2 separate regions of the Homo sapiens genome follow, and region 1 is linked to region 2. The links come from fine-mapping of genetic effects on gene expression. Tissue or cell type: whole blood. Region 2 holds a variant in brackets; the other region holds the start of a gene. All regions are shown on one strand. Distances are between the middles of the regions.

Evidence for each region. PIP is the estimated chance that this variant, and not a neighbour inherited with it, causes the effect.
Region 1: LRWD1 starts here. The variant in region 2 is fine-mapped to the expression of LRWD1 in whole blood (TOPMed, PIP 0.98).

Annotation. Positions count from the first base shown.
Region 1 is chr7:102,461,774-102,467,275 of GRCh38, reverse strand. LRWD1 (leucine rich repeats and WD repeat domain containing 1) reads right to left here and starts at 2,292. Exons shown (of 15, transcript NM_152892.3): 1 at 2,116-2,292; 2 at 1,225-1,459; 3 at 1,006-1,122. The coding sequence starts at 2,195. ALKBH4 (alkB homolog 4, lysine demethylase) reads left to right here and starts at 2,413. Exons shown (of 3, transcript NM_017621.4): 1 at 2,413-2,562. The coding sequence starts at 2,440. It overlaps MIR5090 (microRNA 5090), which reads right to left and starts at 1,534; the gene lies at 1,450-1,534. RefSeq lists enhancers at 416-475, 839-1,364, 1,642-1,741, 1,365-1,891, 2,021-2,670 and a silencer at 2,082-2,511.
Region 2 is chr7:102,429,410-102,435,643 of GRCh38, reverse strand. ORAI2 (ORAI calcium release-activated calcium modulator 2) reads right to left here and starts at 2,069. Exons shown (of 4, transcript NM_001126340.3): 1 at 1,983-2,069. RefSeq lists silencers at 1,660-2,439, 2,470-2,609, 4,008-4,302. The variant T/C (reference allele first, on the strand shown) is at 3,487.

The DNA.
Region 1 (5,502 bases), 32 kb before region 2:
TCTCAGGGAATCTCAATCCCGCCACCTGCTGGAAGCCTCCTGGAATCACAGCCTCATAAAACACACACACACACACACACACACACACACACACACACACACACCCCACACACACCCCAGCAACAACCCAGGTGCCTACACACACACACACACACACCCCAGCAACAACCCAGGTGCCTACACACACACACACACACACACACACCAGCAACAACCCAGGTGCCTATAGTCCCAGCCACTGGGAGGCTGAGGAAGAAGCATCGCTTGAGGCCAGGAGTTGGAGCCTGGGGAACAGAGCAAGATCCCATCTCTACAAAAAATTTTAAAATGATCCAGACGTGGTGGCATGCGCCTAAAGCCCCAGCTATTCAGAAGGCTAAGGCGGGAAGATCGCTTGAGCCCAGGAGTTGGAGGCTGCAGTGAGATACGATCACACCACTGCACTTCAACATGGGCAGCAGAGCGAGACCCTGTCTCTAAAAAAAAAAAAAAAAAAAAAAAAAAAAAAAAAAAAAGGTAAAAAAGAAACACCCCAGAAAAAGCTACTTAGAAGAGTCAGGCCGGGTGTGGTGACTCATACCTGTAATCCCGACACTTTGGGAGGCCAAGGCGGGCAGATCACCTAAGGCCAGGAGTTTGAGGCCAGCCTGGCCAACATGGTGAAACCCTGTCTCTACTAAAAATACAAAAAAAATTAGCTGGGCATGGTGGCAGGTGCTTGTAATCCTAGTTACTCGGGAGGCTGAGGCAGGAAAATCACTTGAACCTGGGAGGCAGAGGTTGCAATGAGCCAAGATCGCATCACTGCACTCCAGCCTGGGCGACGGAGTGAGACTCCATCTCAAAAAATAAATAAATAAATAAAGTAGCACATCAGGCTAGGGGCTGTTGGGGCAAAGAGCCTCTATCAGTCACCCTCCTCAACATCCTCCTGATGTCCAATTCTATCATTCTCCCAATGCCCCCACAGCTCCTAAGCACACAATAATCCTCTCATCCCCTTACCCTGCTGGTCAGCTCCCGATTCAGGTTCTCCACCTGAGAGTAAGTTGAGGACGCATCCTTGCCATTGACCTTACGGAGCGTGGGCAGGAGAAAGGAGACTTTCAGGTTGTCATTGACCTGGGGAAGAGAGGGTGAAGAGCAGTGGCTCAGGAGATGCTGAGCCTGAGCCCAACAGAGTCCTGGCCCCAGGTATGAAGCTGGTGGGAGGCTCCCACTTACCGTCAGGAAGGGGTTGCCCTCCAGGCTGAGTTCCTCGAGCTTGGGGAACTGGCACAAGGCAGTAACATCCCCCAGCTGGTTGTTGGCGCAGCGGAGGACACGCAGGTGGGACAGGCCCAGGTTGTCCGGCAGCGTCTCCAGGTGGTTGTTAGACAGGTCAAGCTCCTGCAGCTGCGTCAGGCGGCACAGGAGTTTGGGGTCCAGGTGCTCGGAAAGCAGCTCCAATCCTGACAGGCTGGAGTTGGGGGCAGAAGGCTTAGGGGGCGGGCAGGCTTTGCACCCTACACCAATCTGCCCCGGGTACCTCAGAAGGCTTTTTCACCTGACATTTCTCGTACAAGTGTAGCCGCCCCGCCCATCCCCCCGTTACTTTATTTTTAGAGACGGGGTGTCACTCAGTCGCCTAGGCGCGATCATAGCTCACAGCTGCCTCCAACTCCTGGGCTGAGGGATCCTCCCGCCTCAGCCTCTCGAGTAGCTGGGACTAGAAGCGCGCGCCACTACTCCCGACTCCACACCACTTAACAAAAAAAAAAAAAAAAAAAAAAAAAAAAAAAAAAAAGCTGCAACTACTTTAGGACTCGGGGGCATCCTAGCCCCCTCTAGGATGCTCTTCCTGATCCTTCGGGGGCTCGTCTGTGCTTCCCAGGCCCTCTAACGATAGCGGCAGGCTGTGCCCCTAACTGTCCGGGCTCCCTTCAGGGGATGAGGCCCCTCGGGGCTCCCGGCGAGCGGGTGGGGCCACGATCTCCCAACAAGAAGACATTTGGACCACTCTGCCGAACCCAGAGGGCGATAACGGGGACAAGCGGGCCGTTGGGGAGGGTCCCCGCTCTTCTCCCCGACCGCCCGGCCCCGAGGACACAGCCTCACCCGCTGCCCGGCTCTTACTCCAGACTCCGGATCTTCCCCAGCCGGTCGCTCTTGGGGCGCCCGCGCTGCATTAGCAGCCGCGCCGAGAGGGGGCCCATGGCGAGGAGGCGCAGCCCGCGCTGACCCAGTCGGCCACCCCGGCGTGTGGCGTCGCCCTGCGTCTCCTGGAGCCCGGCACTGGCGTCCGCGGTAACTGAGCCCAGGAGGCGGCGCCGCGCGAGCCCGTGGGCGTTAACGACCGGAAGGAAGCGGAACCCAGGCCTCGTGCCCCCGCCCGGCGCGGACTACAACTCCCAGCGGCCCCCACGGCCGCGCCTGCGCACTGGCCACGCGGACGGCGCGATGGCGGCGGCTGCCGCCGAGACCCCCGAAGTCCTTCGGGAATGCGGTTGCAAGGGCATCCGGACCTGTCTGATCTGCGAGCGGCAGCGCGGCAGTGACCCGCCCTGGGAGCTGCCCCCAGCGGTAAGGGGTGGGAGAGGGGCCGCGCCCACAAACGTCGCTCTGCATCTGGGGAAACTGAGGTCCAGCTTGGCCATGATAGGGGCCGGGATCGAAGCCTGTGAGGGACCCTTACGGTAGGGGTGATGCAGGGTGAGGAGATGAGGGCTTTAAGGAGCGGGCTTGGGAGTGGGGAAGGAGCTGGAACGTGGGTGGGTTCGATTACAGGTCACCTCGGGGACTCTGGGGGGATCTGCCTGTAAACCTCGACGTAGCCTCTCGGGTCTGGCGCTGGGAGCTTCACGGGCCTGCAGGGAGATGACACGGAAAGGGTCGATCGAGGGTGCTGAATACCAGTCCAACGGTGCCTGAAGGCCGTGGACTGCAATGGGCAAGGAGACAGTGAATTCCAGTTAACTAACGAAAAGGAACTCAAGGATCGCTGCAACCCAGGAGCTGGAGGCTGCAGTGAGCTATGATCGAGCCACCTCACTTCAGCCTGGGCGACAGAGCGAGACTCTGTCTCACAAAAAGAAAATAAATAAAAAAAGAAAAAGAACTCAGCGCCTTTGGGCTGGCATGGAAGGACTGTGGTTGGTTGCAAGGGCATTCCAACCCAGAAAACTGCGTGGGGTAGGAAGGTGGATTGGTGATGCCTCAGGTGAGAGAGATGAGGCTGGAGAGGTTGTGGGGGGGGGGAGGTCTGATCACAGATGCTCCCCGGTGCATCAGCTGAGCAGGCTGGACTTGTCCCAAAGGCCCTGGAGAGCTCTTGAAGGGTTTTAAAGGAGTGATGAAGTCAAATGTGAATTTTAGAAAGATCCTGGGAAGGGAACGGGCAGATATGAAGGTGTGGAGGCTGGTAAGCCAGTGAAGACTGCCCCAACGTCCATGGTAAAAGTGCCCAAGGTCCTATGGAAACAGCATGGCATGCCTCATGAATTAAACATAGAATTACCCATGATCCGCAATCCTGCTTCTGGGTATATATCCAAAGGAACTAAAAGCAGGGTCTGGAAGAGATATTTGCACACCCATGTTCATATTCACGACATTATTCATGACAGCCCAAAGATGGAAGCAAACCAAGCATCTATCAAGATACCTGGGCCGGGTTCAGTGGCTCACGCCTGTAATCCCAGCACTTTGGGAGGCTGAGGTGGGCAGATCACCTGAGGTCAGGAGTTTGAGACCTGCCTGGCTAACATGGCGAAACCCTGCCTCTACTAAAATTACAAAAACTTGCCGGGCTTGGTGAGGCACATCTGTAATCCCAGCTACTCGGGAGGCTGAGGCAGGAGAATCGCTTGAACCCAGGAGGCAGAGGTTGCAGTGAGCCAAGATCGCACCACTGCACTCCAGCTCAGGTGACAGAGCAAGACTCCTTCTCAAAAAAAAAAAAAAAAAAAAAAAAAGAGATGACTTGATCCACAAAATGTGGTGCATACACATAGTAGAATACTATTCAGCCTTAAAAAGGAAGGACAGGCCGGGCACAGTGGCTCACACCTGTAATTCCAGCACTTTGGGAGACCGAGGCAGGCAGATTGCCAGAGCCCAGGAGTTTGAGACCAGCATGGGCAACATGGTGAAATCCCACCTCTACAAAAAAATTAACCATACATGGTGACACGTACCTGTAGTCCCAGCTACCCAGGAGGCTGAGGTGGGAGGGTTGCTTGAGCCTGGGAGGTCAAGGCTGCAGTGAGCTGTGATCACGCCACTGCACTCCAGCTTGGGCAACATAGTGAGACCCTGTCTCAAAAAAAAAAAAAAAAAAAAGGACATTTTGACATATGTTACAGCATGGACGAACCTTGGGGACACGATGCTAAGTTAAGGAAGCAGTCACAGAAGACAAATACTGCATGATTCCTGTTGTGTGAGCTACGTAGGGTAGTCACAGGGACAGAAAGTAGAAGGGTTGTTGCCAAGGGCTCAGGAAGGGGAGATGGGGACCTGTTGTTTAATAGGGAAAGAGTTTCAGTTTTGCAAGATGAAAAAGTTCTGAATGGTGGTGACGGCTGTACAACAATATGAATGAACTTAAGAGTTTTAATTTGTGGAAGGGGCCAGGTGCGGTGGCTCATGCCTATAATCCCAGCCCTTTGGGAGGCTGAGGCAGGAGGCTCGCCTGAGTCTAGGAGTTTGAGACCAGCTTGGACAACATAGCAAGACCCTGTCTCTACAAAAAATTTAAAAATTAGCTAGGTGTGGTGGTGTGTGCTTGTAGTCCCAGTTACTTGGGAGGCTGAGGTGGGAGGATTGCCTGAGCCCAGGAGGTCAAGGCTGCAGTGAGCTGTGAGCGCCACTACACTCCAGCCTGAGTGACAGAGCGAGACCCTGCCTCAAACAAAAAAAAAGAAAAGAAAAAAATTGCGGAAAGTCTGACCCGTTCCAGTGGCCATGTGGAGGTGACATCTTCCCAACCCGATGGCTATGGAACAAGGAGAGTGAGGTATCCAGGATCTCAGGGCACTGGGGCAGTTCCTCACTGGCTTTCCAGCCTCCACCCTTCATATCTGCCCCTCCCCCCTCCAGATCTTTCTAAAATTCACATTTGACCTCGTCACTCCTTTAAAACCCTTCAAGAGCGCTCCATGGCCTTTCGGACAAGTCCAGCCTGCTCAGCCGACACACGGGGGACTCCCAGTTTTAATGTTTCCCGTGGGAGGGCCCCAGGAGCAGGAGGAGATAGTGCCAATCTCAGGAGGGGTCTGAGCTGGAGTCGGTGGCTGGAAGTAAAGCATTGGAAGGGGCTGAGGTCCCTGGAGGGAAGAACAGAGAAAGACAGCGGCCCACAGTGAGTGGCAGCCCAGGGTGTGAGGAGCCTGGAGATGGAAGAGGAAGAGGAGACAGGCCACAGAGCCCAGGGCTGAGTTCTGGTGGCCTCCGAAGTCCTCACTGGGTGACTCCGGCCAGAACCTCCACACCTCCTGCCCATGATAGTTATGGTACCTTCCT
Region 2 (6,234 bases):
AAAATAGCTGGGTGTGGTGGCAGAGGTTGCAGTGAGCCAAGAGCACACCACTGCACTCCAGCCTGGGCAACAGAGCGAGACTCCATCTCAAAAAAAAAAAAAAAAAAGAGGGGGGGGCAATCCTCATCCACTGAGCTAAAGGCTTCAATGGAGGGCAGGGAGCAGAGGACTGGCTGCCTCACACCAAGGCCAGGAAAAGGTGCTTGCAGGTAACACCGGGGAGGGGACAGAGCGGCCCTTTGCATGCCAAAGTGCCTCATGCCTGTAATCCCAGTGTTTTGTGAGGCCAAGGTGGGAGGATCACCTGCGGCCAGGAGCTGGAGACCAGCCTAGGCAACAGAGTAAGACGCTGTCTCTAAAAATAATTTTTTTTGACATGGGGTCCTGCTGTGTTACCAAGGCTGGAGTGCAGTGGCACAATCTCAGCTCCCTGCAAATTCTACCTCCCAGGCTCAAGCGATCCTCCCGCCTCAACCACCCGAGTAGCTGGGACTACATGTGTGTGCCACCATACCTGGCTAATTTTTGGTATTTTTGGTAGAGACAGGGTTTTGCTATGTTGGCCAGGCTGGTCTAGAACTCCTGAGCTCAAGTGATCCGCCCACCTTGGCCTCCCAAAGTGCTGAGATTATAGGCATGAACCACTGCGCCTGGCCTCTAAAAAGAATTTTAAAAAAGAGGGACCTTTCCTCAAAGACAAGATGCTGCCTGCATGGAAGGATTCCGAGAGACGGGAAGGCCACTCCAGGTGTACATGTGGGGTGGCTCTCCTTGTCCAGGAGATATGGAGGGAAGACTGGCTGCCACCTGGGGGGTGGAGGGGGCAGGGAGATGTGGGTGGAAGACACTTGGAGCCTGGGGCTGTGGAATGAGCCAGAGGGTCTGGGCAGCATGACTGGGCGTCCAGCCACAGGAGAATGGAAGAAATTGGTGAGTGGAACGGTCTGGGCACTGCTAGATCATTCTGGTTTGGGACCACAGTTCAACCCAGGGAAATGGCTGGCCGACTGGCAGGAGTGGGACGCAAGGGAGAGCCTGGTGGCCTCCAAAGGAAGGAAGGGTGAACAAGAGGGATGCCCCATCAGTAAGGGTGGGCTGGGCTCAGGTCTGAGAGTGGAGGTGAAGAGCTCAGGGCAGTGAGGGCTGAGGGTGGCTTCCTGGGAGCCGCCAGGCCTCCCATGCCCCATCGGTGAGGCCCTGCAGATGTCCCCAGAGTGGGTGGGATTGTGGAGGAAACGATGTCTGTCTGCCTGGAGCTGGGTCTTGAGACAGGTCTCCAGGTCTCGAAGGAGCAGCCCAGGAGGGGGTTCAAATCCATCCTTTATGTTCCCAATGCCAACTGTGTGTGCCAGGCCCGGTGGCCCAGGGGGAGGGACAGAGTCTGGGCCTCACACTGGATCCCAGGCAGGGGGTGGGGTGGGGCAGGATGGAGCCCTGTACTTCTGTCAGGTGGCACAGACCCTAGAGGATGCTCCGGGACTGAACCTTGTGGGGTTGCTTTTTTTTTTTTTTTTTTTTTTTTGCTTTAATGAGCAGTCCGAGAAAACAGGTCTTGTAGAATAACGCGATCCCCTCTCTAGAGATGAGCTTTTCTTCCTGGCTGGCCTACTGGACACATTTCCAGAGGGCGGTCTTGGAGTTTGACTTCCTCTAAGCATCTGGGGCACCGGCAATGGCGAGTGTCTCTCTCCAGCAGGCGCACTGGGAGGGGGCCTCCCAGGGGCGCTAGGCTGCATCCCTGTCCCTCCCCCAGGGACGCCCCGGTGTCCGGAACCGGCTGCGCCGCCGACCCTGATCCTCTGGGCGCCGCACCCCGCCAGGGATCCCGCGGGGTGGAGGTCACCAACCCCGGATGGGTAGTGACCGCGCCCGGGCAGCCTACAGTCGTCCCCTTCCCCGCCGAGCGTCCCCGGTCCAATTCCGGCCCCCCCAGCCGCAGGGACCCCGCTCCCCGCGCCAGGCCCCCGCGCCGCCACACTCACCGGAGCTGCCCTCGCCCCGCCCGGCTCGGCTCCCGCTCGGACTGCGTGGCCGCGTGGCCTGTGGCCCAGTGGCCCGGCCGGGGCGCCGAGCGCGGCCCCCTCCCTCCTTCCGCCGGTCGCGCGGGGTCCCCCGGCCCCGCCTCCACCCCGCCCCCGCGGCCGCCGCAGCCGCTGCCAAGGCAACCAGGCGCCGCCAACACGTGACCCACCCGCGGGAGAGCCGCGGCCACGTCACCCGCCGGGCCGGGAGGGGCGGGGCTGGCGGCGCCTCCTCGGAGAGTGGGGGGGTGGGGGTCCCCGCCTCACCTGGAACCACCCCGGGATCGCGCGAGGGAGAGGAGCAGGGGAGGTGGGAAGACCCCGACCCGCGCGCATCCCTCCTGCCCCAGCTCCTGTCCCCGGCCCCAGCTCTGGGAGTCAAGGCGAGGCCCCCCACCGCCCCATCGGGGGTCCGGCTACCCACAGACCACGAGCTGGGCTTTCCCTGCCCCTGGGTCCGGGCGCAAAAGGGGAGCCCCAGGCTTGGCAGGGTGAGCCTCGGGGGGTGCCCAGCATTGGACGCTGGCTGCGTAGAGGGGCGGGGAGTGGGGACAGGGCGGGCGGGTGCAGGTGGGCAGTGGAGGGGAAAGGAAGGTGGGGAGGGGAGAATCCGTCTGGCCACGCCCGAGTTTTCACAGGATTTTTTTTTTTATTTTTTTGAGACAGGGTCTGGCTCTGTCGCCCAGGCTGGACTGCAGTGGTGCGATCACGGTTCAATGCAGCCTCGAATTCCTGAGCTCGAGTGATCCTCTGCCCTCAGTCACCCAAAGTGCTGAGGCTACATGTAGGCAGGAGCCACCACACCGTGGTAGTTTTTAAAAAATTTGTTTTTGTTTGTTTTTTGAGAGGGAGTTTTGCCCTGTCACCCAGGCTGGAGTGCAGTGGTGCCATCTTGGCTCACTGCAACCCCCGACCCCGGGGTTGAAACGATTCTCCTGTCTCAGCCTCCGAGCTACAGGTGCACGCCACTAGCCTGGCTACTTTTTTGTATGTTTAGTAGAGATGGGGTTTCACCATGTTGGCCGGACTGGTCTTGAACTCCTGACCTCAGGTGATCCTGCCTGCCTCGGCCTCCCAAAGTGCTGGGATGATACATGTGAGCCACTGTGCCCAGCCAAAAAAAAAAAAAAAAATTCTTTTTTTAGAGATAGAGTCTTCCTGTATTGCCCAGACTGGTCTTAAACTCCTGGCCTCAAGCAATCCTCTCTTAGCCTCTCAAAGCACTGGGATTACAGGCATGTGCCACAATGTCCAGCTAATTTTTAAATTTTTTAAAAAAATTGAGATGGGTCTTGCTATGTTGCCTCTGCTGGTCTCGAACTCCTGGGCTCAAGTGATCCTCCCACCTCAGCCTCCCAAAGTGCTGGGCATAGAGGCATGGGCCACCTTGCTTGGCCCCTGCCCAGGGTGTTGGATGGCACCATGAAGAGCTTGCACTGAGCTAATTGGGGGTTGCCACCCAGAG[T/C]GCACTGCCACTCACAGACCCAGCGAGACCCCTGGGGTCCCAACTTCAGTGCAGCGTGCTGTCCTTCTCATGCTGTTCGCAGACAGCAGCAAAGAGTTTCTGCTGTGCCCTGGCCCCTTCCACTCCCTACTGCAGGGAGCCTCTCACCTTTAACGGTGAATTCTCTGCGGTTTTACGAGCGAGGCAGTCAAACAGGAGCATTCTTTTCAGGAAGTGCAGCACATGAATAATTCACAGACAGACAAGATGGGTTCCTATCAGCCCGGCGGTGCCAGACGGTCCCTTGGAGTCCTTCCTCCATGCCGGGTAGGCTGCTGCGTGCCCTACATAGGATTTTTCCATCTGTCACAACAGCATTGGACCGTGACACATTTATCCAAACGAAGGAAAAATTCCACTCATGTCAGCCAGCCCACATTTTATGACAATTGGAAGAGTAGATGTTACGGACGCCAGGTTAAATCCATCTACACTTCGAGTTGTCTTTTACAGGCTACTGCTGACAGCCAGAATGAAACCAGGAGGACACTTAGTCTAATAAACCAGGTTTCCCCCTCCGGGTTACTGACCTAAAAGGCAAGTTAGGCCCTAACATGGACATAAGCAAATCCCAGGGTTCCTTACTGGCCCTCCTCCTGCCACCCCCATCAATGGCTATGGGTGAGGGAACATTTGAATTTCAGGGGTAAAGTCCTCAAAAAGCAATCATGTTATGGCTTTCCAACGTGGAGTTCTTGGTAAAATGAATCTCGGTGGCTCATGCCTGTAATCCCAGCACTTTGGGAGGCTGATCACCTGAGGCCTGGAGTTCAAGACCAGCCAGGTCAACTGGTAAAACCCCATATCTACTAAAAATACAAAAATTAGCCAGGCATGGTAGCGCACGCCTGTAGTCCCAGCTACTGGGGAGGCTGAGGCAGAAGAATCGCTTGAACCTGGGAGGCGGAGGTTGCAGTGAGCCAAGATCACACCATTGCACTCCAGCCTGGGCCAGAGAGCAAGACTCTGTCTCAAAACACACACACACACACACACACACAAAACAGGAAGAAAACACTTTGTAAACGCAGTAGTTTGCATCATAGATGAATGTGCTTTCAGCAAAGGAGTCCTTTGCTTGTTGAATTCTCACTCTTGCAGCGACTTCACTCATCCTTGAGAAAGCTTCCTGTGCCCGTTACTGATGCCGCCACCCCACAGGCATATTTATCCAGCATGCCCAGACAGAAGCAAAATGCAAGTTGTAATTGCCAGTGCTTTGCAGAGTTGGTTTCCTAACCAAACACAGAATAGCTTGCTTGCTTGCTTTTCTTTCCCTCCCTCCCTTCCTTTTCTCTTTTCTTTCTCTCCCTTCCTTCCCTCCCTCCCTCACTTCCTTCATTTCTTTCTTTCCCCTCCCTTCCTCCCTTCCCTCCCTTCTCTCCCTTCCCCCCCTTCCTTTCCTTCCTTCGTTCCTTCCTTCCCTCCCTTCTCTCCCTTCCCTCCCTTCCTTTCCTTCCTTCGTTCCTTCCTTCCCTTCCTTCCTTCCTCCCTTTTTCTTTCCTTTCTTTCTCTATCATATTTATGAGACAGAGTCTTGCTCTGTTGCCCAGGCTGGAGTGCAGTGGTGCCATCTTGGCTCACTGTAACCTCCACCTCCTGAGTTCAAGCGATTCTCATGCCTCAGCCTCCCAAGTAACTGGGATTACAGGCACGGGCCACCATGCCTGGCTAATTTTTGTATTTTTAGTAGAGACAGGGTTTCACCATGTTGGTCAGACCAGTCTCGAACTCCTGGCCTCAAGTGATCTGCCGGCCTCAGCCTCCCAAAATGTTGAGATTACTGGGGTGAGCCACCATGCCTGGCCTATAATAGCTCCTTCTTTTTGAGATGGAGTTTCGCTCGTCATTCAGGCTGGAGTGCAATGGCATGATCTTGGCTCACTGCAACCTCCACCTCCCGAGTTCAAGCAATTCTTCTGCCTCAGTCTCCCAAGTAGCTGGGATTACAGGCGCCCACCAAGTTTTTGTATATATTTTTTAGGAGAGATGGGGTGTCGCCATGTTGGCCAGGCTGGTCTCCAACTCCTGACCTCAGCTGATCTGCCTGCCTAAACCCAGAGGATGTTTCAGCTGTCAGCCCTGTCATCGGGGACCCCTCCTTCTACCAGGAAACCCTGTTCCTTGGCTCCAGTGAGTCTGCCTGCTTGTCCCCCCATTTTCTGTCCCCTCGATATGCGATTCTCAGGGTTCTGTCTGGGTCCCTCTCCTCTCTTTGCTCCTCCCTGACTGGTTTCATCTACTCCCATAGTTCCAAGGACCAGGGCAGCCTGACAACCCCATCATCACCTTCAGCCTTGATCTCTCTTCCCAGCACATATGCCTAGGGCCCTCCACTTTACCAGGCCCACAGCCGAATCTGTCATCTTCCCTCGCATTCCTGCCCCACCGCCTGGGTCAGCTGTCTCAGAAGGGTTCCCTCACCCACTCAGCTGCTGGCACCCATGAGTCCTCTCCCCATCGGGTCGTGACAATTCTCCCACCTCCACATTGCTGGACTCTCCCTTACTTCTCCCTGTCCCCACTTGCTTCTGCACTAACTCAGGCCACCATCACCTCTGGTCTGCATGGCAAGGCAGGAGCCCTGTCCCCTTCCACAAACTCAAAGGTCCCCCATGTCTCTCCATTCCAGCCCCTACCCTGTGGCCTTTGAGACTCCAGTCCCCTGATTAACAGGGTCTGAGGCCATGGCAGGGCGCCTCCTCCCTC